Linked DNA regions of Homo sapiens: all the other regions are linked to region 1. The links come from fine-mapping of genetic effects on gene expression. A gene starts in region 1. Each other region holds a variant in brackets. All regions are shown on one strand. Distances are between the middles of the regions.

Region 1 (8,183 bases):
CCTCAGGTGATCTGCCTGCCTTGTCCTTCCAAAGTGCTGGGATTACAGGCGTGCGCCACTGCAACAGCCCAGAATAATTTTTTTCTTTAACAATGCCTTCAAACAGTTGTTTACACACACACACACACACACACACACACACACACACTCCAGCTTGTATAGTTGTTTTTGGTGGGAGGGTTAGACAAGTTGGTACATTATGGCTGAAACTGGAAGTCTACTTACTTCTATAACAAACATGTATTATTTTAAACATTTCCTTTAAAACAATAATAACATGTTTAACGAGCTCATCTGGAACCAGTCTTCCCTGAAGGTTATTATTTTGAAAGTTTTAATGTCCTGTATAGATAATTGAATTGTCCAGGTTTTCTAGACGAGTACATTCCTTTGATATTTTCAAAGCCACTAATAGAATTACTCATATTTTTAAACTCCACAATTATGTTTATATATCCTTTCTTATGTCCAATTCTATGTTTTTTAATCTCTTTCCTTTTAAACTAGCTAGTATAGTATACTATAGAGTGTGATCTATGAAAGGCCTGCATTAGAATACCTGGGATGACACTTAAAAGTAGTAAGTGAATTAATTTTCTGAATCATCAATGGATACTGAAATCAGTAGGTGAAAGCTTTTTGGGGAAACAGACTGGTCAAACAGTCTCAGAGCATCACCCTCATGGATTACTTATTACATAAGAATCATACACCTTCATAATGGAGGGATCTGACAGTCACAGCCTCACCAGGTCATCAAGCTTAGCATCACCAACATACGCTTTCTGAAGTGAGGCAATGAAGTACTTAACATCACCAGCATATTCTTGCCTAAAATGTTTAACCTGGAATCTAACCATGAATCATACAGAATCCACCAGACAAATCCAGATTGTGGAGCATTATACTCCACAATTCCCCGGACCTTCAAAGAAGTCAACACAGTCAATAATATGTGAACATTGATTTGATCCTGGATTGGAAAAAAAGTCATCTGTGAAAGATATTTTTGGCCAGGCACAGTGGCTCATGCCTGTAATCCCAGCACTTTGGGAGGCCAAGGTGGGCAGATCATAAGGTCAGTAGATTGAGACCATCCTGGCTAACACGGTGAAACCCCGTCTCTACTAATGACAGGTGAAGCCAACTGGACTTCTGGGTAGGGTGAGGACTTGAAGAACTTTTCTGTCTTACAAGTGGTTTGTAAAATGTGCCAGTCAGTGCTCTGTAAAAACACACCAATCAGCACTCTGTGGCTAGCTAGAGGTTTGTAAAATGGACCAATCAGCACTCTGTAAAGTGGACCAATCAGCACTCTGTAAAATGGACCAATCAGCATTCCGTAAAATGGACCAATCAGCACCCTGTAAAATAGACCAATCAGCACTCTGTAAAGTGCACCAATCAGCATTCTGTAAAATGGACCAATCAGCAGGACATGGGCGGGGACAAATAAGGAAGTAAAAGCTGACTCCACCCCCCCCACCCCCGCCGGCCCCTCCCCTCCTGCCCCCACGCCCAGAGACTGCAACCACCCGTTGGGGTTCCTTTCCATGACATAAGGGCTTTGTTCTTTTGCTCTTCAGAAGAAGTCTTTGGGTCCCTGCCATCTTAAGAGCTATAAAACTCATCAGGAAGGTCCACAGCTCCATTCTTGAAGTCAGCAAGACCACGAACCCACCAGAAGGAACGAACTCTGGACACACTAAAAATACAAAAAAAAAAAAAAATCAGCAGGCTTGGTGGCAGGTGCCTGTAGTCCCAGCTACTCGGGAGGCTGAGACAGGAGAATGGCGTGAACGTGGGAGGCAGAGCTTGCAGTGAGCGGAGATCATGCCACTGCCCTCCAGCCTGGGCAACAGAGCAAGACTCCGTCTCAAAAAAAAATTTTTTTAGAGACAAGTGGAGAAACAAATATTAACTGTACATTAAATATTATACATAGGACCAGGCCTGGTGGCTCATGCCTGTAATCCCAGCACTTTGGGAGGCCGAGGCGGGTAGATCACGAGGTCAGGACTTGGAGAGGAGCCTGGCCAATATGGTGAAACCCCGTCTCTACTAAAAATACAAATAATTAGCTGGATGTGGTGACACGCACCTGTAACCCCAGCTACTCGGGAGGCTGAGGAGGAGAATCGCTTGAGCCCGGAAGGCAGACTTCATGCCATTGCACTCCAGCTTTGGCAACAGAGCGAGACTCCGTCTCAAAAAAAAAAAAATCATATATAGATGATTTGATGATATGGTTAATTTTGTTAGGTGTGATAATGGTATCATTAGTAGCATGATGTCCCTTTGTCTTTAGGAATTGCCGGCTGGCAATGGGGAAGGGGTTGTGCATCCACTATTTCAGCCCCTACTACTTTAAGTCTCTTCCCAAGCACGTTCCTCTCCCAAAGAAGTTACCATTCTAAATGCCTAACAGCTGGAAGTCCCCTCTGGTGGTTTCACAAGTGGAGTGATTTTACAGGAGAAACCCAGGTTTGGGGTTTACTATTTACTTGACGGCATTTGTAATCTGTAAGGCTCTTCCTGCAAAGAACAGGTGTTTCCAACTATACGTGCCTGGTCAAGGACTATTTCTTGGGTTTTCTACGTTCTGCTTTTGACAGCTGACTTAACTCAGGGCCTGCCTCACTGAAGGGAGAAAAAGGAAGGCCTCGGTCCCCCAATCATGATGACCGGGTTGTAAATACTGCCTGGGAAGGGATAATACAGCCTTTTCCATTGTGTGTGTGTTTTAGTTTTTAATTTTTTAAATTTCAAGCTTAGGCAGTGGTTCAGTGCAAGGACTGAAAAGCGCTACAAGAGAAGGTGGGCAAGCACGAGGGGTTTCAAATACAGGGGTGGAAGCAGTAGAAGGAAATGTCTCTTAGGCCCAGAGGACGGAACCAAAGGGTCAATTAGAAGGGAAAGGGACCTGCGGACCTGGGGAGAGGTCACTGGGGTTCTAAGCCTTCCACCTCTGCTTCCGGAATTTCCACGGGTTTCGCGGCCTTCTGGAGCGGCGACTTGGCCACGCTTGGGGTACAGGGTTGTGGGAAGTCATGTCATCCCCTCCCTCACGTGTTCCCTTGGCCATACTTTCCTGCCCCTCCACTTCCAGGCAAAACACTCCTCGGGACAGGCCTTGGGACATGTCCCAGATACACAATGGGGGCGCTGGACTTGGTGATAAGGGGCCTGCAGGAAGAAAAAGGCAGCCGTGAGAGCCGCCTGCAGATCCACGATGCATCTTAAAATTACAAATTCTCAGGCCCTACCCCAGACCTACTGAGTCAGAATACCCAGGGCACTGAGCCAGGGGGTGGGTGCCCGTAGGCCCGGCAGCACCCAGCCTGCAGAAGCTCCACCTCCGGGAGCGCTGAGCTAGGACCAGCTCCCCACGCCCCTGCCCTGGGGCTGCCGGGAGTCCAGTCCTGTTACACCTCCCGCGGCCGCGCACAGCGGCAACCCGGGCGTGCGGGGGCGCGCGCGGTCAGGGAGGGGCCTGCGGAGGCGCGAGGCCCCCGGAAGCGCCTTTCCCGGAAGGCAGGGAGGCAGCGCCGGCCTCCGGAGGCGGCCTGGGCGATGGCGGCGGAGTTTTGTCCATAACGTGGGCAACCGCGCAGCTGGAGGATGGCCTCACTCGGGCCTGCCGCAGCTGGGGAGCAGGCGTCGGGGGCTGAGGCGGAGCCGGGCCCCGCGGGGCCGCCGCCGCCGCCCTCACCGTCCTCTCTGGGGCCCCTGCTCCCCCTGCAGCGGGAACCTCTCTACAACTGGCAGGCGACCAAGGCGTCGCTGAAGGAGCGCTTCGCCTTCCTCTTCAACTCGGAGCTGCTGAGCGATGTGCGCTTCGTACTGGGCAAGGGTCGCGGCGCCGCCGCCGCTGGGGGCCCGCAGCGCATCCCCGCCCACCGCTTCGTGCTGGCGGCCGGCAGCGCCGTCTTTGACGCCATGTTCAACGGCGGCATGGCCACCACGTCGGCCGAGATCGAGCTGCCGGACGTGGAGCCCGCAGCCTTCCTGGCGCTGCTGAGGTGAGCGGCAGCGCGGGCCGGGCCGGGCCGGGCCGGGCCGGGCCGGGCCGGGCTGGGAGATCCCCGGGGCCCGGCCTACCCGGACTCCCGGATGACCTTGGGCTGGGCTCTTCTGACCCGCCCGGGGCCTCAGTTTCCTCCCGAGCCGTTGATGCTCCGGAGGGTCGAAATCGAAATCTGTGAACCAGGACGGCTCAGTCGCCAACTAAACGTTAGTGTCTTCATTAGGCAAGCGTGCGTTTTACCATTGAAAGGCGTTTCGCATTCCAATTATGGATTGTCGCTCAGACTTCAGAATTAGACAAGTGGCAAGGATAGAGGGGCAGATCAGGTTGTCCTGATTGCCCATTTGCGAAGTTTTATGTTTTTGTTTGGGGGAAGAGAGTAGTTGAAAAATCTTGCAGGACTGATGTTTTGGGGTTATTGTCACCCCCTTCCCCCCGCTTTTTTTGAGACAAGGTCTTGCTCTGTTGCCCAGGCTGGAATGCTGTAGCGCGATCATGGCTCACTGCAGCCTCGACCTCTCCGGGCTCAGGTGATGCTCCGACCTCAGCCTCCCGAGTATTTGGGACTACAGGCACGCGCCACCACGCCCGGCTAATTTTTTTTATTTTTATTTTTGGTAGAGAGAGGGTTTCACTATGTTGCCCAGGCTGGTCTCGGACTCCTGGGGTCAAGCGATCCGTCCACCTCGGCCTCCCAAAGTGCTGGGATTACAGGCGTGAACCACCGCGCCTGGCCACTTTTTTGTTTTTGTTTTTGTTTTTCATTAACGTATTAGTTGTCAAGACCCAGGAAAGTAAATACGAAAACAGACAAGTGAGGCTTTACCTGCTTTGTGTTTCTACACACAAGGTCACATTTGCTTATAAATGAATCCCTCCCTTGATGTTAGAATTTGCTTGTTGGTTATTTGAGGATAGTAGATTGACATCTAATGAAAAGGTGATTGTTTGGCATTACTAGCTTTTAATCACAGCCATCCTGTTAGGGAGGCGTAAGAATTGTTTACCCCAATTTCACAAATGGGACTGAGGCCCAGAAGAGTCAAGTATCTTGCCCAAGGTAACAAACAGCTAACTCACACTGAAGACCATGTCTGTTTCATTATACTAAGATGGTTTTAAATAGCTGCCTGAGTAGAACGTGTTGTTATTAAAATGGCAGAGTCTTGGGTAGTACTGAAGCAAAAACAGGCAGGTCAGTGGGACAGAATTAGATACAAAGGTTCACAGTTGAATCAGAAAGATGAACAAGAAAATGAATGTAAAGTTCACACAACTAGAAACAAATAATAAGATTCCATTGACGAATGGATAAAGGACAGGATAGATAACTTAGAGAAAGAAAAAATACAACTAATTAACGAATGTTTTACCTGGCTGGTAATTAGGAAGTGCAAATTAAAAGACAGTGGTATTTTTTCCTTCCATTAATCCCACCAAAAAATTTAAAGGTAACATCTGAACAGCATTTTCTGACAAAGATGGTGGTAAAAACCCTTTTGGAAAACAGTTTGGTGCTATAGATTTTCTTTCCACACGTAAGAAGCATTCAAGTATTGCAAATTGCATACAAAAATATTTACAGCTTTATTTATAGTAGTGAGGAAGTAGTCAGCTGTAGGGAATGGTTAAACAGTGGTAGGTTCACTTGATGAGATATAATGCAGTCACTAAATATGACGGATAGCACTTGAAACTGCACCATGGTTACAACGTGAAAAGACATGGAACAAACATATACCTAGAGACCGGGATAAAAGGAAACATACCAAAATGCTAAGCAAAGTCACCTGGAGTAGTGAGATGAAAGTACCTTTTTTTCTTCTTTATTCTTTGTTTCTGATATTTTCTGTAATTTAGTTCAGTTACATTTATAAAGGGGGGGGACCTCAAAAGCTAAAATCCAGGTCATTTTAGTTTAAAGTTCACCAGGAGGATTGGGTATAGTTCATTTGGATTTTCTAGACTAGAAGTAGTTTTCAAAATGATCTGTGGGCCGTCTGCATTATAATCTTCTGGGGTGCTTATGAAATGTGTAGATCTCATCCTCATTATATACCGTAATATTTGGAGGTGAGACCTTGGTAGCATTTTTAACACTCTCCCTAAGTGATACTTATACAAACTAAATTTAAGAACCACAAATCTAAAACTATTTTGGGGCAATTTTTTACTTTGAAAAAATATTGAGATTACTAGGATAAGAATGTAGAGGAAAAATACATATTTTAATATTTTCACCGAAGCTGCTAATTAGTGCTTTCCCATCAATAGAAAGTAAGTTAATTTTAGAGTGTTTGAAATGTAGGACAGTGCAATTTTTTTTTTCACATTGTAAAACATTTTTTACATTTTTAAACTTTTTTTTCATTTTTACATTTTCAGTGTGTTTTATTTTCCTAGCATTGTATTTATCCTTCAGGTTCTGGTCATTGTTCTATTTTGAAATTGATATCTGGACTGATTTCTAAATTTAATTTTGGCTGGCTGTGTAACGTAGATGTTGTTGTTAGCTAATACGTGACAAAAAGATGCCTGATAGTACTTGCTAAGTTGGAAGAGCAGGTTAGTTTGGGCATACTTGTAAACATCCTGAATTAGTTAACATTACTTACAGGCTCATGAACTTAAGTTTGAAGCCCTTAAAGAAACTGTGCACTTTGAACTGCCTGACCTTTAAATGATGTTCTTCAGTTGTTTGACAAATACTATATGCCTCCCTTTTGGGGCGCTTGTGAAACAGCGAATGGCTGTTGTAGGTGTTTGGGACACAGCAATAAACAAGAAAAAGTCCTTGCCCTCATGAAGCACATAATCTAGTAAAGGGAAACTAAAGATACAATGTCAAGTACTGATGAATGTTTTGAAGAAAAATAATCAAGTTATGAGAGAAGGAACATTCTCAGCAAGGGAACGCATTGTTTTCGGCACTAAGTATCTCCTGTTGGAGGAACACAAGAGTGAACCAGTGTGCCTTAAGCACAGTAGAGGGAAGTGGTAGAAAATGAGGTCAAAAAGATAGGCCAGACAGGATGGTGCAGGGCTTTAGAGACTGAGCGAAGACTTTTTCAGCTGGTATTTGATGGAAAGCCTTTGGAGAGTTTTGAATGAGATTGGGGAGGCGGAGGTGGTGGCAGGAGGTTGTGATCTGATTTACATTTTAAAAAAACAAACTCTTTCTGGCAGTGGTTGGAGTAAAATAGGCAGCAAGGTGATAGATGAAGAGGCTTTTGCAGTAGTCCAGGCAAGAGGCGATGGTGAATTGTACCTTGTACCAGGGAGGTAGCAAAGGACATGATGAGACATGGTCAAATTCTGGATATATTTTTGAAGGTACAACCAAGAGGACTTCCAAGACATCCAAGTAGTGTCATAGAGTAGACAGAAATATGAATTTGGAGGTGAGGGAACAGCTTGCTGAACATAAATTTGCAAGTTAAGAGTGAATGGTATTTAAATCGAGAGATCAAGTGAGATTACCTAGGAAGGCATGTAGACTGTGAAGAGAGGTACAAGGATGAGCTCTGGAATCTTCAAATATGTAGAGATGTAGCAGAGAAAAAGCATAAAATGAAACTGAGAAGCAGCTGTCAGTGGAATTAGAAGAGAAAGAAGGAGCATTATATTCTGAAAGTCAAGTCAAAACATTTCAAGAAAGAAGAAGTGGGAAATGTCAACTATGGAAAGTGGAAAGTGGTCAGTTATGCTCAATGCTATTGAGAGTCAGGTATAATGAAGACTTTGAGTTGATTTTTAATCTTGACAAGGTGGAAGCTATCGATAACCCTGCCAAGAGTGATTTCAGCTGATTAGAGTAGGTTAGGCAGAAAATGGGAAGTGAGGAGCTGGAGACAGTATAAACAGTCCTCTCAGGAGTTTTGTTGCAAAGGGGAACAGAGAATGACGTGATGGCTGGAAGGGGCACGAGGTAAGTGTTCTTCAGTATTCAGTCCTCAGCTCTCATCCTTTCTCCCATCAACCAAAGTGAGAGCTTTACGCACTCATTCCCCCACATGTGTCTCCAAAGCTCTACTTAGCTCCAGACCCTCATTTCCAACTGGACCATCGTGAAGTAATGTTTTATACCCATGCAGATGGACATGTTATTAATGAAAATATCTGACATTTAATGAGTACTTTTACTGTGTGCCATAGA
Region 2 (8,183 bases), 27 kb before region 1:
CAGTTTGAAATACTAAAGAGATCTACCCCTCAGTGGAGGGTAAAGCCCACTTGAACTACTGTGAATGTCTCTAACCTGACTGTTTGCTTCTCCTTCAGACAACCTAAAAGGGTTTCTATCTTTTGATAGGCCCCACCTACTTACAAAGAACCCTCAGATGATTCTGTCAGCCAAGGAAGGGGCCTAACAGTGACTTACACATCTCTGCAAAGACACTCATGGAAACTACCATACTAATGAACATAGTCCTTTATTCATCAACGTAAACAGAAAACCAAAGATTGCAAATATATTAGGAAAACCAACAGCATGGAAGAGAAGATCCAAGTTGGACCAATAGAAAAATTGACCTTGGAGGAAACAGAGATAATTTAGGAAAGAAAGATTTTATAAAAATTGTGGTCACTATCTTCAGAATAATTTGAGAAGATGCTGCATTCAAGAACTGAGAAGAGGTGGCTATGGGAAAGGAACAAGCAAAGAACAAGAAAAGATTCTTGGGAATTAAAAGTGGGATTGCAATAGGGAACACTCAATAAGTGCGCCAAATAATAAATTGGATGCAGCGAAAGACCAAGCAGTTGATCTGGAATCAAGGAATCTCAGAATGTAGAGCAAGAAAAACAAAGAGACAGCAAACATAAGAGAGTGCCAAGGACAGACACAGAGATCCAGCATCTGTCTGATTAGGAAAGAACAGAGAAAATGAAAGAGAGAGAATACCCAAAGAAGTCACAGAACAACATTTTCTTAAGCTCAAGAAATATGTGAGTCTTTAAGACTGAAAGTGTTCACTGAACAAAATTAAGGTAAAAGGGTTAAACTCTTAGGCATGGTGGCTCATGCCTATAATCCCAGCACTTTGGGAGGCTAAGGCAGGAGGATCACTTGAGCCCAGAATTTCAAGACTAGCCTGGGCAATATGGTGAGACCCCATCTGTACAAAAAATTTAAAAATTAGCCAGGCGTGATGTCGCACACCTGTAGTCCCAGTTACTCAGAAGGCTGAGGTGGGAGGATCACTCAAATCTGGGAGGTGGAGGCTGCAGTGAACTATGATTGCACCACTGCACTCCAGCCTGGGGCAACACAGTGAGACCCTGCCTCAATAAAAAGAAAAAAATAAGATTAAACCTCCCTCACTAGCATTCTCAGTTCTCCTTACTCTATTTATTCCTTTTTTTGATAGCACTATATAATACTAGCACACTACATAATTGTCTTATGCATTATGCATATTATTTATGACCTGTCTCCCCTGCTAGAATGTAAGTTCCAGGAGGGCAGGAATCTTTGATTTGTTCCCTAATGAAGCCCAGCACCTTGAACAGTGCCTTGCACCCTGGAGCCATCAGTAAAGATACGTCAAATTGAATTAAAATCCAGACACATCTTGGTACAATTTCACAACTCCAAATATAAATGGGAAATCTTAAAATCTTGGGGATTTCCTAGAAAGAAAAAGAAACAGAACTTTCACCTGACATGAACAACATTGGATCCTGGACAACAATGAATAACATAACATCTTCATAGTTAGCAAGGAAGAAAAGCTTGGTACAATCTAAACCCTGCCGAAGTACCAGTTATTTGTAAAGGCAATCGTAGGGCATTTTCAGACATACAAGAACTTGGAACATTTACTGTTCATATTCCTTGGATGACAAAATTATTCAAACATATTTTCCAGCAAAAATTAAAGGAGGGTCCAAGAAAAAGGACAACATGGGATACAAGAAATTGAAACCCCAAAGAAGTGAAAGAAGCCAGCAAGAGATTAAGAGGATTCATCATTTTCAGATGCCCAAAAGGATTTCCTTGGACCAACATTTCAAATGGCATGAGGATTTACATTTATTAATATTCCCTGGCTCCAGTCATATTAATTGGTTCTTTTTTTAATGGGGGTTTTCCAGTAAAAAAAAACAAAAAACAAACAAACAAAAAAAAGAAAACCTGCTAGACAAATTCTAAAAGAGCTGTAACAATTGGTTATTTAGTTAATAATATTTACATAGTCACAAAGCTGAAATGCTATTTAAAAGTTTTTAATTTTTGAAACAATTATAGGCAAAACATAGAAAACTTACTTGGAGTTACAAAATAAAATGTAAATTTTATAAACGTTTACCCTGTAAGAACAGTAACTGACAAAAATTGAGGTGAGGGCAGGGGGTGAGCAGAAAATATGCTTCTTTTAAAAAAAAACAAAATTGAAATCCCCTCTGCAGTCCTGGTCCTCTCTCTCCATCTGTAGAAGCAATCACTCTCCTGAAATTGGGGCATGATCAACCCATATTTATATACTTTACCTATAAACAATATATAGTTATTTTATAAAAATTTAAAGTTTATGTAAATAATATCCTTACATGTTTTTTTCACTTAAGTTTTTGAAATCCACTGATTTTTATACATTTGGTCACTCATTTTCACTGTTAGAGTATTGACTATACCACAATTTTTCATTCCCCTCACTAATGGGCCACTGAGTTGTTTCACTACTCTAAACCACGTTGTAGTGAATATCCTTGTACTGTTCGCCTTGTGCACATGCTCAGGAGTTTCTCCAGGGCACCAATGCCTAAAAGTGAAATGGCCAGGTGCTGGGTGTGTGCACGTTATTTGGAGCCTCTTTATACTTGGTCGGTCCATCGCTTCTCTGTGATTTGGCTGAGATCAAGTGTGTACTTGATCAGTCCAGGACCAGCTCCAGCCGGTTCCTTTACTAACCTGCTGAGCTCTGAAAGCAAAGGCCCTTTAAGAGTCACTCAGCTTGGCTTTAATCAAGTGGCCTCAAGTTTTAGTGTGTCCAAGGACTGCTTGGGAAGCTTGTTAAAAATGTAGTCTCCCAGATACTCTGATTTGTTAGCTCTAGGGTGAGGCCTAAGAATCTGAATCTTTAACAAGTTCCCCAGAGATTCCAATACAAGTAGTCTGCAGCCTACACTCTGAGAAACATTCTCCTAATCCACAGCTACAGACAACACCTTTTAACCTAAACCAGACATCCACAAAAGGTGCTATGTGTTGCCAGAAGAATCAGATGGGTAAGGGGAGTCATTGCTTCCAGAATGTGCTGGTAGCAGAAACTCAAATCTCAAACAATGGTATACAATGGCCACAAATTAACAAGCAAGAGTTTTCACCCTACTTTGAGTCCAGGCCAAGACGTATAGTCTTCATTCTTGTCTCCCTGTGTGCAGGGACATTTTTTTGCTAGTTCACCCTTTTATCCCCACATCACCTTTAAAAGCCCCAGCTCTCTGCAGAGATGTCAGTATCCATTTTCTGCATCCAGTAAACTCAAAGCCTGCTCTTCTAACTTGGTGTAAACAAAAACCAAGCTTCCAGGTTACTGAGCTGGCAACCTCCCTAGAGCTGTGCCACGTTGCTCATAGACTCTAGGTCCCAGAGTTTAGTTTTCTCCTAGCCTCTGGGGCTTTTACCTATTTTCTTGGATGCTTGGATGTGTGTTTAAATGATTTTGTTCTATTTTATCCAGCTTTTTTTTTTTTTTTTTTTGAGACAGAGTCTCACTCTGTCACCCAGGCTGGAGTGCAGTGGCGCAATCTCGGCTCACTGCAAGCTCTGCCTCCTGGGTTCACGCCATCCTCCTGCCTCAGCCTCCTGAGTAGCTGGGACTACAGGCACACGCTGCCACGCCCGGCTAATTTTTTGTATTTTCAGTAGAGACAGGGTTTCACCGTGTTAGCCAGGATGGTCTCGATCTCCTGACCTTGTGATCCTCCTGCCTCGGCCTCCCAAAGTGCTGGGATTATAGGTGTGAGCCACCGCACCCAGCCTGTATCCAGCATTTTTAGGTGTTTTGTAGTGGAAGTGTTCTCAGATTATCTAATGAAGATAGTTTGAGATTTGAACTTGAAAAATTAAACTATCAGGTAAGAGGAGCAAAAAAAGAAGCATTTTCAGAGATGCAAGATTTCAAAAAAAATCTACCTCCCAAGGGTCTTTACTCCACCAAAACCAGGCAGTACACGATGCAGAGGAAGACGTGGGGTTCAGGAAACAGGAGCTGCAGCCCAGGAGTGAGGCTGAGGGGTCCCCTAGCATTGATGGGGTGACAGCTGTACAGCAAGCCTGGATGACAAACAGTCCTGCTTAGGGCAGGAGGGCTGCCTTAAAGAAAGATGAAATTATTAGGTTATCTAGTATGTTTGAAGGTCTTAGAGACAAAAACTTTTTCACCAGAGGATTTGAGGCAGAAGTAGTGAGAGGAAATAAAAAACTAAGCAAACAGGCTTATATTCCAAATGAAGACCCAAAGAAACAAGGAAACTTGGCCGAGTGCGATGGCTCACGCCTGTAATCCCAAAACTTTGGGAGGCTGAGACGGGCAGATCATGAGGTCAGGAGATCGAGATCATCTGGGCCAACATGGTGAAACCTCATCTCTACTAAAAATACAAAAATTAGCTGGGCATGGTGGCGTGGGCCTGTAGTCCCAGCCACTTGAGAGGCTGAGGCAGGAGAATCGCTTGAACCCGGGAGGCAGAGGTTGCAGTGAGCC[A/G]AGATCACGCCACTGCACTCCAGCCTGGGTGACAGAGCAAGACTCCGTCTTAAAAAATAAAAAAATAAAAAAAAAAGAAAAAGAAAAAAAAAAGAAACAAAGAAACTTGCACATTTTTGTGCTAGGTTTAAATTTTTCACTACTACAAACCATGTTGTAGTGAACATCCTTGTACTGCTTGCCTTGTGTACATGCTCAGGAGTTTCTCTGGGGCAATGATGTGTAAAAGCAAAAGGGCCAGCTGCTGGGTGTCTGCATGTTGTCTGGAGCCTCCTTATACTTGGTCAGTCCGTCGCTTCTCTGCTCTTTGGCTGAGATCAAGTGTGTACTTATCAGTCCAGGACCAGCCCCAGCCAGTGGGTAGTCATGAGGAAGTATGATTAGACAAAGAGGATGTGATCTAATGGAAAGAAACTGAGGGGAACTCAGCAAGTCCTGTTTGTTCAGATTCTTCTTGGTGTCTCTTCAGGATTAGGATGTTCCTAATGCCCCTTTCCTCTGCACATAGGAAGGGTACTTCTGGAGTGAGGGTTTTATGATTCACTCCAAAGAAGGGCAAGAGGGAGGTGAGAGTGACCTTACTAATTCTGCTGTTTCTCAAATGCCAAGATGCTATCTTTTGGGGTAACATGTCCTGAACCTCATCAGGAGAGAGTGATTAATTCAGCTAGGGAGGCAGGCTAGTTAGATAGAGACTGTGAACCCTGAAAGACCAGGGCAGAGAGTGCCTTTCAGAAGAAAGGTAGTTAGAGCAGGTAGAATGGCCCAGACGCTATAATCCCACAGCATAATCTAGGAACTCCCAGCCACCTGGCCGGGGGAGGAAGGTTAGTGAAACCTTTTTTTTTTTTTTTTTTTTTTTGAGATGTAATTTCCCTCTTGTTGCCCAGGCTGGAGTGCAATGGCGTGATCTTGGCTCACTGCAACCTCTGCCTCCCAGGTTCAAGTGACTCTCCTGCCTCAGCCTCCTGAGTAGCTGAGTAGCTGGGATTACAGGCACCTGCCACCATGCCCAGCTAATTTTGTTGTGTTTTGTTTGTTTGTTTGTTTGTTTTTGAGATGGAGTCTCACTCTGTTGCCCAAGCTGGAGTGCAGTAGCCTGATCTCGGCTCACTGCAAGCTCCGCCTCCCAGGTTCAAGCGATTCTCCTGCCTCAGCCTCCTGAGGACTACAGGCACACACCACCATGCCTGGCTAATTTTTGTATTTTTAGTAGAAACGGGGTTACACCATGCTGGCCAGGCTGGTCTTGAACTCCTGACCTTGTGAGCTGCCCGTCTTGGCCTCCAAAAGTGCGGGGATTACAGGCATGAGCCACTGCGCCCGGCCTAATTTTGTATTTTTAGTAGAGATGGAGTTTCTCCATGTTGTCCAGGCTGGTCTCGAACTCCTGACCTCAGGTGATCTGCCCGCCTCAGCCTCCCAAATTTCTGGGATTACAGGTGTGAGCCACTGCGCCCATCCTAGTGAAACTTTTAAGCAGAGGAGTGACATGCTCAGCTTGGCCATTTTAGTAGCTTAGTCTGGTAGATATACAGAGAATGAGGTGAGGGGGTATGAACTAGGCAGCAAAGAGCTGAGAAGAGCAGTAATCTAAGCTACAAATGAACGGGTCTTGACTATGGCGGCTGCAACGAAAGGAGAAAGGAAAGGTTAATTAGGAATCAAATCTAAGAGTTTGATGATTAAATGGATGTTGAGAAACATGGACCACAGAAGAATTTAGGGATGACAGCTGGCTGGGAGAAGGAAAAGGAAAGGGAACTAAAAGGACTAAGGTATACTGAGAGATGCTGAGACCTATTTGGGTTCTTCTCTGAGGCCTGGAAACAAGGTCCTCCTTCCTTGTGCTTGTGGCTGCCCAAATAAAATCAAGTTTTATAAACCAGGGAAGAAAGGAGAAAAAGATGTTGGGTAGTGCTTATAAGATAGAAACTTGTTGTATGCTTGACGCATTACTTTCAGTGCCTGTCTTGATTCTCAAGCAACTCTACAAGGTACTGTTTTCACTGGGAACACATGAAGTTACAGGTAACAGAATGCATAAATCTGGTTTAAGCCATGAAGACATTTGAAAATCTGACATAAGAATCCTGGAGAAAGAAGTTTCCTTTTTAGCTGCAGTGGCTCAAGGATGTCATTAAGAACCCGGCCTCTTTATGTCTTCCTAATCCTCCTCCTCAACACGTTGGTTTTTCACTCTTAAGCTTGTCAACACAAGGCTTTTCCCTTTCCGGGATTTTATCTTTAACTAGGCTACAAGAATCTTTCCAAAAGCCTGCTTCCAGACTCTTCCATCTCATTGGCCATAATTGGCCACATGCTGAGTTCAGAAGCAATCTCTAGCAGGGGAACGGGCTAAGCTTCAATCAATCATGACTTTTCTCTGAGGCCTGGGGACAGGTATTCCTTCTTTGTACATGTTGTGGCCCAAATGAAATCAGGTTGTATTAACTAGGAAAGAAGAAGAAATAACTGTTAGGTAATGGTAGTAAGTCATATTTCCAACCTTCAGAACATCTGAGGAAAGGGGACAAAAAGAAAAAAGAATTGACCCAGGTCAATCTCCTAAATGCTTTTTTTTTTTTTGAGACAGAGTTTCACTCTATTGCCAGGCTGGAGTGCAGTGGCACAATCTCGGCTCACTACAACCTCCACCTCCCAGGTTCAAGCGATTCTCCTGCCTCAGCCTCCTGAGTTGCTGGGACTACAGGCAGGCACCACCACGCCCAGCTAATTTTTAGTAGAGATAGGGTTTCACCATGTTGGCCAGGATGGTCTCAATCTCCTGACCTTGTGATCCGCCCACCTCAGCCTCCCAAAGTGCTGGGATTACAGGCGTGAGCCACCACACCTGGCCCAATCTCCTAAATACTTATTGATGGCATTTACAATCAGAAAGATAACAAAAAGCCCTTATTTATGCAATAATTTACCAGGATATAGCTGATCTGTCAGCTGTGTAATTACTGAAGTATAAAACGAAGGTGTTTCCTGACCTCTTTGTGTAAGTTATATCCTGCATGCATCACTTAAAAACCTCCTATGTCCATTTTGTGCCAGGGTGCATCCTAATATGGCGAGAGAGGACCGGGAGCTGCACTGGTGGTCCTCAGCATCTCTGTGCTTGGCCCAAGTCTCAATATCATGTGTATCTTTCGAATTCTCAGTAAAGGCCAATACTGGATAAGATTACTGAGTCCTGTGAGTCTAATTGAACAATCTGATCTTTTATGTTATCCTAGGTAGGTAAACAACAATGTTATTATCCCCATTTGACAGAAGAAGAAATAGAAACCTAGCAAGGTTTAAAACCTTGCCCAGGCCGGGCACAGTGGCTCACGCCTGTAATCCTAGCACTTTGGGAGGCCAAGGCAGCCAGATATCCTGAGGTCAAGAGTTTGAGACCAGCCTGGCCAACATGGTGAAACTCCGTCTCTACTAAAAATACAAAATTAGCTGGGCGTGGTGGCGCGCACCTGTAATCCCAGCTCCTCAGGAAGCTGAGGCAGGAGAATCACTTGAACCCAGCAGGCAGAGATTGCAGTGAGCTGAGATTGCGCCACTGCACTCCAGCCTGGGCAACAAGAGAGAAACTCTGTCTCAATTAAAAACAAACAAACAAACAAACAAACAAACAAAAATCCTTGCC
Region 3 (8,183 bases), 34 kb after region 1:
TTGTATTTCATTATGCTTATTGGCCTATTTATTTTCCTTTACATTATTCATGTCTTTTGTTGTTCTGTTGGTGTGTTCAAATTTTGTTTTACTGGTTTATCTTACATTGATTCTTTGTATATTTATTATTATACCAAATTTTTTTTTCTGACTTATACTTGTTCCAATTTTCTCCAAGATTGTTTTTGTTTTTGCTGATAAGAATCAGTGTTTGGGTTTTTTTTAAATAAACTTTTGAAATTAAAGTTTAACATCCATATAGTAAAATTAACAAATAAAGTGAACATACTTATTTAACCAATTTATCCTACTGTACTAGTACCCCAGAAGCCTTTGTCATGACCCTCTAAGTCACTAATCTCCCTCTGAAAGGTGACTACTTTCTGTCTTCTATAAATTAGTTGTGTCCATATGTAAACTTTATATAAAGGAAATCATATATATGGTGTGTATTCATTTTTGTGTGGCTTCTTTCTCTTAACATTACGCCTGTTAGATTCATCCATGTGGTTGAGTGTGGCAGTAGTTCATTCTTTTTCATTGCTTTATAATATTCTGTTATACAACTGTGCCATGATTTATCCATTTTACTGTTGTTGGATATATGGATTATTTCTGTTTGGGGACCATTGAGGCCATTCTTGTACGTGTGATTTGGTATACATACGTAAACATTTCTGTTGGATATATACGAGTGGAATTGCTAAGTCATGGAGTGTGCATATGGTCGGCTTTAGTAGATCCTGCCATCCTGCCAAACAGTCCCTTAAAGTGGTTGTAACAGTTTACACTCATCAACAAAGTGAAGAGACATAAGAGTTTGTTTTGGTTGCCCACATCCTCTCCAATACTTGGTATTGTCAGTTTTTGTAGTTCTAGCCATTTGTGTGGATGTGAGGACGTATTTCATTTTGGTTTTAAATTTCATATCACGGATGATTAATGATGTTGAATATGCCAATAATTTTTTAATCCAGTCTGACAGACTTTGTCTTTTATCTGAACTGTTTTGGTTCACTTGCACTTAATGTAATTACAGATATATTTGGGTTTATGTTTACCATCTTGCAATTTGTTTTCTACTTGTCACATCTTTTTTTTTTTTTTCCTTTCTTGCTTTCTTTTAGAGGAATCAAGCTATTATTCTTTTTTTTTTTTTTTTTTGGTAATGATACAGTTTTCCCCCTTATTCTGTGAATATAGTGAACTACATTAATTGATTTCCCAATTTAAACCTATTTTGGATTCCTTACGTAAATCAGACTTGGTTGTTATGCATTATCCTTTTTATATATTACTGGATTTAATTTGCTGAATTTTTAATGTATTTTTATGACTACTGAATGAGAGAAATTAGTCTATATATATTTTTTTTTCTTGCAATGAAATTGTCAAAATTGTCCTCATACAAAAGTTAGAAATATTTCCTTTTTTTCCCCCAGTGTTCAAGAGTTTGTATTATTAATTTTCTCCTGGAACCAACTTCTAGCTTTATTAATTTTCTCTATTACAGTATGTTTTCCATTTCATTACTTTCTGCCTTTTTCTTTATTACTTTCTTTCCTTTCTTTGCTTTTAATTTGCTGGGGTTATTTATTTTATTAGTCTTTGTGACTTTTTGAGATACTTAGAAGGTCAACCTATATTCTTTTTGAATGCATATATTTAAGTGTATATTTTTTCTCTCAGCATCCTTCCCCCCCACAGTTTTTAATATGTGTATTTTCATTAGCATTCGATTAAGAATTTTTAATTTTTGCTTTTTTTTTCTTTGACTCATAAATTATAGATAACTTAATTTCCAAATATTTGAGATTTCTTCTTATCTTGCTCTTGCTGATTTCTGTCTTAATTCCAGTATAGTCAGAAAATATATTCTATATCATTTCAATGCTTTGAAATTTGTTGATATCTGCTTTGGCCCAGCATATGGTAGTTTTATTTATTTTTTATTATTTTGTTTTATTTATTTTTGAGACAATGTCTCACTCTGTCACCCAGGCTGGAGTGCAGTGGCATGATCTTGGCTCACTGTAACCTCCGCCTCCTGGGGTCCAACGATTCTCCTGCCTCAGCCTCCCCGGTAGCTGGGATTACAGGCATGCGGTGCCACGCTCGGCTAATTTTTATATTTTTAGTAGAGACAGGGTTTCACCATGTTGGCCAGACTGGTCTCAAACTCCTGACCTCAGGTGATCCACCCATCATGGCCTCCCAAAATGCTAGGATTACAGGCATGAGCCACCGTGCCTGGCCCATACGGTAGTTGTAATAAGTATCCATGTATACTTGAGAAGAATGTATTCTTCTTTGTTATGTGCAGAAAAACCTGAATAGTCCTGTATCTGTTCAACAGATTGAATACTATATCTATGAAAGGAATATATACTAATGATCTTCAAATTTTCTATGTATCTATCTATTGATTTGCTTTTTGTTCTATCAGTTACTAAAAGAAGTAGATTTAAATCTCAGGGTATGATTGAGAATGTGTTTCCTTTTGGTTCCATCAGTTTTCTTCTTTATTTTCTTCTTTATTTTAGGTACCTTCAAATTTAGGATTTTTTTTTATATTGAATTTGCTTCTTTATCTTTACAGTCTATCTCATCTTAAATCTAAACTTATTGTGGGTTTTTGTTTTTTATTTTATTTTTTGAGACAGTCTCCCTCTGTCACCCAGGCCGGAGTTCAGTGGCACAATCTTGGCTCACTGCAACGTCCACCTTCTGGGTTCAGGCAATTCTCATGCCTCAGCCTCCTTAGTAGCTGGGACTACATGTGTGCACCACCACACCCTGCTAAATTTTGTATTTTTAGTAGAGATGGGGTTTTGCCATGTTGGCCAGGCTAGTCTCGAACTCCTGGCCTCAAATGATCAGCTTGCCTCAGTCACCCAACATTCTGGCATGAGCCACCACGCCTGGCCTAAACTTCTTGTTTTAAAGTCTTTGTCTGATATTGGTATAGTTTCTCAAGGTTTTTTAAATTCTATATCTTTCTCATCCTTTTACTTTTAGCCTTACATTATTTTGACCATGTCTCTTGTAAGCTTCATTTTTAAAAAATTCAGTCTGACAGACTTTGCCTTTTATTTGGAATATTTGGTTCACTTTATATTTAATATGATTAATAGTCTATTAAACTTTCTTTTTCTTTTTCTTTTTTTTTTTTTTTTT[G/TG]GTGTAGACAGTGTCTCCTCTGTCACCCAGGCTGGAATGCAGTGGCATGATCTCAGCTTACTCCAGCGTCAACCTCCTGGGCTCAGGTTATCCTCCCACCTCAGCCTCCCGTATTAAAGATTCTTTTATTATTATTTTAGTGGGTTGCCCTTGTTATTACAAGAATATATCCTTATTGATTTTTAAATTAAATCTTAAAAATTAAATTTTTTAGATGGGGCACAGTGGCTCATGCCTTTAGTCCCAGCACTTTGGGAGGCTGAGGCAGGTAGATTGTTTGAGTCGAGTTCAAGACCAGCCTCGGCAAAATGGCGAAACCCTGTCTTTACAAAAAAAAATTTAAAAATTAGCCTGGAGTGGTGGTACACACCTGTAGTCCCAGCTACCTGGGGGGCTGAGGTGGGGATCACTTGAGCCCAGGAGTTCAAGGCTGCAGTTAGCCGTGATCACACCACTGCACTCCATACCTGGGCAACAGTGAGACCCTGTCTCTAAATAAATAAATAAAATTAAAATTTTTAAATTAAAATTTTCTACACAATATAAAGGCATTATTGATACTTTTGCTATATTTAACCTTCTCTAGCCTTTGGTGCTACTATTTCATGTATTTTAATGTTTCATATGTTATAAAGCCCACAAAACATTATTTTTAAAGTCAATAATCCTTTTGATTTGCCTATATATTTGCCCTTTCAGTTATCTTCATTTTTTTCTGTATGACCAGATGTGTGCTTCTATCTGGGCACATTTCTGTTAGCTTGAAGAATTCTCTTCAATATTTCTTTTAAAACAGGTAGGATACTAACCAGATTCTCTCAACTCTTTTTTTCTTTTGTCTAAAAACATCTTTATCTTACCATTTTTTTTAAAAAAAGAGATGGGGCCCTGCTGTGTTTCCCTGGCTGGAGTGCAGTGGCTATTCACAGCTTCAAAATTCTGGCCTCAAACAATCCTCCCACCCCAGCCTCCTGAGTAGCTGGGACTAGAGGGGCACACTGCTGAGCCCAGCTTGCCTTCATTTTTGAAGGATATTTTTCTGGGTAGAAAGCTCAAGGTTGACAGTTATTCCCATCTATCATTTGAATGCAATTCTATTCTGTTTTTTTTTTTTTTTTTTTGAGACAGAGTAAGACTGTCACCCAGCCTGGAGTGCAGTGGCACAATTTCATCTCAGTGCAACCTCCACCTTCCAGGTTCAAGTGATTCTCCTGCCTCAGCCTCCTTAGTAGCTAGGATCACAGGCACCCACCACCGCCCTTGGCTAAATTTTGTGTTTTTAGTAGAGATGGGGTTTCACCATGTTGGGGAATGGTACCAAACATGTAGGCTTTTATCGCTCACCTCCCTCCTACCATTCCCCCCAAGTCCCCAAAGTTCATTATATCATTCTTAGGCCTTTGCCTCCTCATAGTTTCTTAGCTCCCACTTATAAGTAAGACCATATGGTATTTGGTTTTCCATTCCTGAGTTACTTCACTTAGAATAATGGCCTCCAAGTTCATCCAAGTTGCTGCAAAAGCCTTTGTTTCGTTCCATTTTATGGCTGAGTAGTATTCCATGGTGTATGTATACCACATTTTCTTCATCCAGTTGTTGGTTGATGGGCATTTAGGTTGGCTCCATATTTTTGCAGTTGGTAGTGCTGCTATAAACATGTACGTGCAAGTATCTTTTTCATGTAATGACTTATTTTCCTTTGGGTAGGTATCCAGTGGTGGAATTGCTGGATCAAATGGTAGTTCTAATTTTAGTTCTTTTTTTTTTTTGGAGACAGAGTCTCGCTGTGTTGCCCAGGCTGGAGTGCAGTAGTGCGATCTCGGCTCACTGTAACTTCTGCCTCGCAGGTTCCAGTGATTCTCCTGCCTCAGCCTCCCGAGTAGCTGGGACTACAGGCGCACATCACTGCACCCAACTAATTTTTGTATTTTTGTTAGAGATGGGGTTTCACCATGTTGGTCAGGCTGGTTTCAAACTCCTGACCTTGGGATCTGCCTGCCTCGGCCTCCCAAAGTGCTGGGATTACAGGCATGAGCCACCACCCCCAGTCCTTTTTAGTTCTTTAAGGAATCTCCATACTGTTTTCCTTAGTGGTTGTACTAGTTTACATTCCCACCAGCAGTGTAAAAGAGTTCCCTTTTCACCATATTCACGCCAACATCTATTTTTCTTTTTTTATTTTTTAATTATGGCCATTCTTGCAGGAGTAAGGTGGTACCTTATTGTGGTTTTAATTTGCCTATGTATGATAATCAGTGATGAGCATTTTTTCTTATGTGTATTGGCCGCTTGTATATCTTCTTTTTTTTTTTAATTATACTTTAAGTTCTAGGGTACATGTGCACAACGTGCAGGTTTGTTACATACGTATACGTGTGCCATGTTAGTATGCTACACCCATTAACTTGTCATTTACATTAGGTATATCTCCTAATGCTATCCCTTCCCCCTCCCGCTGCCCCACAGCAGGCCCCGGTATGTGATGTTCCCCTTCCTGTGTCCAAGTGTTCTCACTGTTCAGTTCGCACCTATGAGTGAGAACATGCGGTGTTTGGTATTTTGTCCTTGTGATAGTTTACTGAGAATGATGGTCTCCACCTCCATCCATGTCCCTATAAAGGACACGAACTCATCATTTTTTATGGCTGCATAGTATTCCATGGTGTATATGTACCACATTTTCTTAATCCAGTCTATCATTGATGGACATTTGGGTTGGTTCCAAGTCTGCTGGGCGAAGGATATGAACAGACACTTCTCAAAAGAAGACATTTATGCAGCCAACAGACACATGAAAAAGTGCTCATCATCACTGGCCATCAGCAAAATGCAAATCAAAACCACAATGAGATACCGTCTCACACCAGTTAGAATGGTGATCATTAAAAAGTCAGAAAACAACAGATGCTGGAGAGGATGTGGAGAAATAGGAACACTTTTACACTGTTGGTGGGGCTGTAAACTAGTTCAACCATTGTGGAAGATAGTGTGGCGATTCCTCAAGGATCTAGAACTAGAAATACCATTTGACCCAGCCGTCCCATTACTGAGTATATACCCAAAGGATTATAAATCATGCTGCTATAAAGACACATGCACACGTATGTATAGCTTCCTTTGAGAATTGTCTCTTCATGTCCTTTGCCCACTTTGTGCTGGGATTATTTGTTTTTTTTTTCTTGCTGATTTGAGTTGTAGATTCTGGATATTAGTCCTTTGTTGGATGCATAGTTTGCAAATATTTTCTCCCACTCTGTGGGTTGTCTGTTTGCTCTGCTGATTATTTATTTTGCTATGCAGAAGCTTTTTAGTTTAATTAGGTCTCATTCATTTGTTTTTGTTTTTGTTGCATTTGCTTTTGGGTTCTTAGTCATGAATTCTTTACCTAAGCCAATGTCTTGAAGAGTTTTTTTGATGCTATCTTCTAGAATTTTTATGGTTTCTTAGATTTAAGTCTTTGATCCATCTTGAGTTGATTTTTGTATAAGGTGAGAAAGGAGGATTCCTGGCATCCATGAGGAATAGCATTTATTCCTGGATCTAAGTTTTGACTAATTAATGCTTTTAACATTTTAATTAATGTGTTTAACCTCAAATGGATTTATTGAAACCTTAAAATATATGCAAAAATTATATATGCTAAGATTTTTTTCCCCTATTTTTATGTTACGTCCTCTAGATTTGAATTTACGTTAAGTGAATTCCAAAGTTAGGAATTGAAATCAAATTCCTTTTTTTAGGCTTATGTTTTTATTTCCACAGGTCCTGCTCAATCTGGAATTTTGTCAGATCGTGAAGTGGTAAACCTCTTTCTTCATTTTACTGTCAACCCTAAACCCCGAGTTGAATACATTGACCGACCAAGATGCTGTCTCAGGGGAAAGGAATGCTGCATCAATAGATTCCAGCAAGTAGAAAGCCGCTGGGGTTACAGTGGGACGAGTGATCGAATCAGGTATCTGTTATATTGGGGATGCGGGGGTAGAGTGGGGGTAGCAGTTACCATTTGGCCTTTTTTATATATTATGGGAGATAATTAACCAACATTTCATTTTATACTTCATTTAATACACTTTTAAGTTAAGTTAATATAGGAGTCAAGAAGTCACTGAGGCATCCTGCCCTCCTCACTGATTTATGAGTGAGGGTGACTTCTTAAGAAAAAAATAGAGTAAGAAAGGATTGGGTTGGACCTTCTGTTACGTGATTTTTTTGTTTTTCCCCAAGATGGAGTCGCTCTGTCACTCAGGCTGGAGTGCAGTGGTGGGATCTCTCACACTGCAACCTCCGCCTTCTGGGTTCAAGCGATCCTCCCACCTCAGCCTCCTGAGTAACCTGTAAGGCATGCATCACCACGCCCAGCTAATCTTTTTGGATTTTTAGTAGAGACGGGGTTTCACCATGTTGTCCAGGCTGGTCTCGAACTACTGACCTCAAGTGATCCACCTGCTTCAGCCTTCCAAAGTGCTGGGGTTACAGGGGTGAGCCACCACGCCCAGCTGTTACATGATTTTTGTTTGGATCACCACTGCCAGTGGGCTGAGTTCTAGACCTTAATTGATCAAACGTTATTTTTACAGGCTTAGGGCTACAATTAATAAATGTAACCTTACTATGTTTAGTGTGAGTTTTTTCTTTGCATAGATGTTGCAGGGAAAGTATCTCAGTATACATTTATAAAAGCCTTGAGAAAAAAATCAAGAATCTTGAAAAATGCATGCGTATAATCCTGTTGAAGAAATTGTCTTTGCTGTACTGTGTTTCTTTAGGTTGAATGTCAAAATAGAATCAGTGCCGGTTTTCACAAAACATGACTTTTGGATTTTCATTTATTTAATAGCACTTCAGTATAAAACTGGAAATTAACAAGTTTGTTAAAACAGAAAAATCTGGTTGGATGTGGGACTATTATAAATCTTAAGTTAACATGGAAATTAAAAATGTACTTGTAGACTATTTAATAATAATTCACAATAACTATATGCAAAAATTATGGGATGAGGCCA

What was found.
Region 2: its variant is fine-mapped to the expression of BTBD1 in whole blood (TOPMed, PIP above 0.99).
Region 3: its variant is fine-mapped to the expression of BTBD1 in whole blood (INTERVAL, PIP above 0.99).

What each region holds. Positions count from the first base shown.
Region 1 is chr15:83,062,590-83,070,772 of GRCh38, reverse strand. BTBD1 (BTB domain containing 1) reads left to right here and starts at 3,521. Exons shown (of 8, transcript NM_025238.4): 1 at 3,521-4,022. The coding sequence starts at 3,622. It overlaps MIR4515 (microRNA 4515), which reads right to left and starts at 3,438; the gene lies at 3,358-3,438. RefSeq lists silencers at 1,388-1,437, 3,314-3,793, 4,034-4,203 and enhancers at 1,342-1,636, 3,074-3,123, 3,134-3,253.
Region 2 is chr15:83,089,321-83,097,503 of GRCh38, reverse strand. It overlaps LOC124903543 (a long non-coding RNA gene), which reads left to right. Exons shown (of 2, transcript XR_007064743.1): 2 at 1-2,128. It also overlaps the pseudogene LOC124903588. Among named protein-coding and RNA genes, the nearest start is that of TM6SF1, 14 kb to the left of the region's middle. The variant A/G (reference allele first, on the strand shown) is at 4,532.
Region 3 is chr15:83,029,085-83,037,267 of GRCh38, reverse strand. It overlaps BTBD1 (BTB domain containing 1), which reads left to right. Exons shown (of 8, transcript NM_025238.4): 5 at 6,940-7,132. All of the region lies in intron 1 of LOC124903542 (a long non-coding RNA gene), which reads right to left. Among named protein-coding and RNA genes, the nearest start is that of C15orf40, 22 kb to the right of the region's middle. The variant G/TG (reference allele first, on the strand shown) is at 3,178.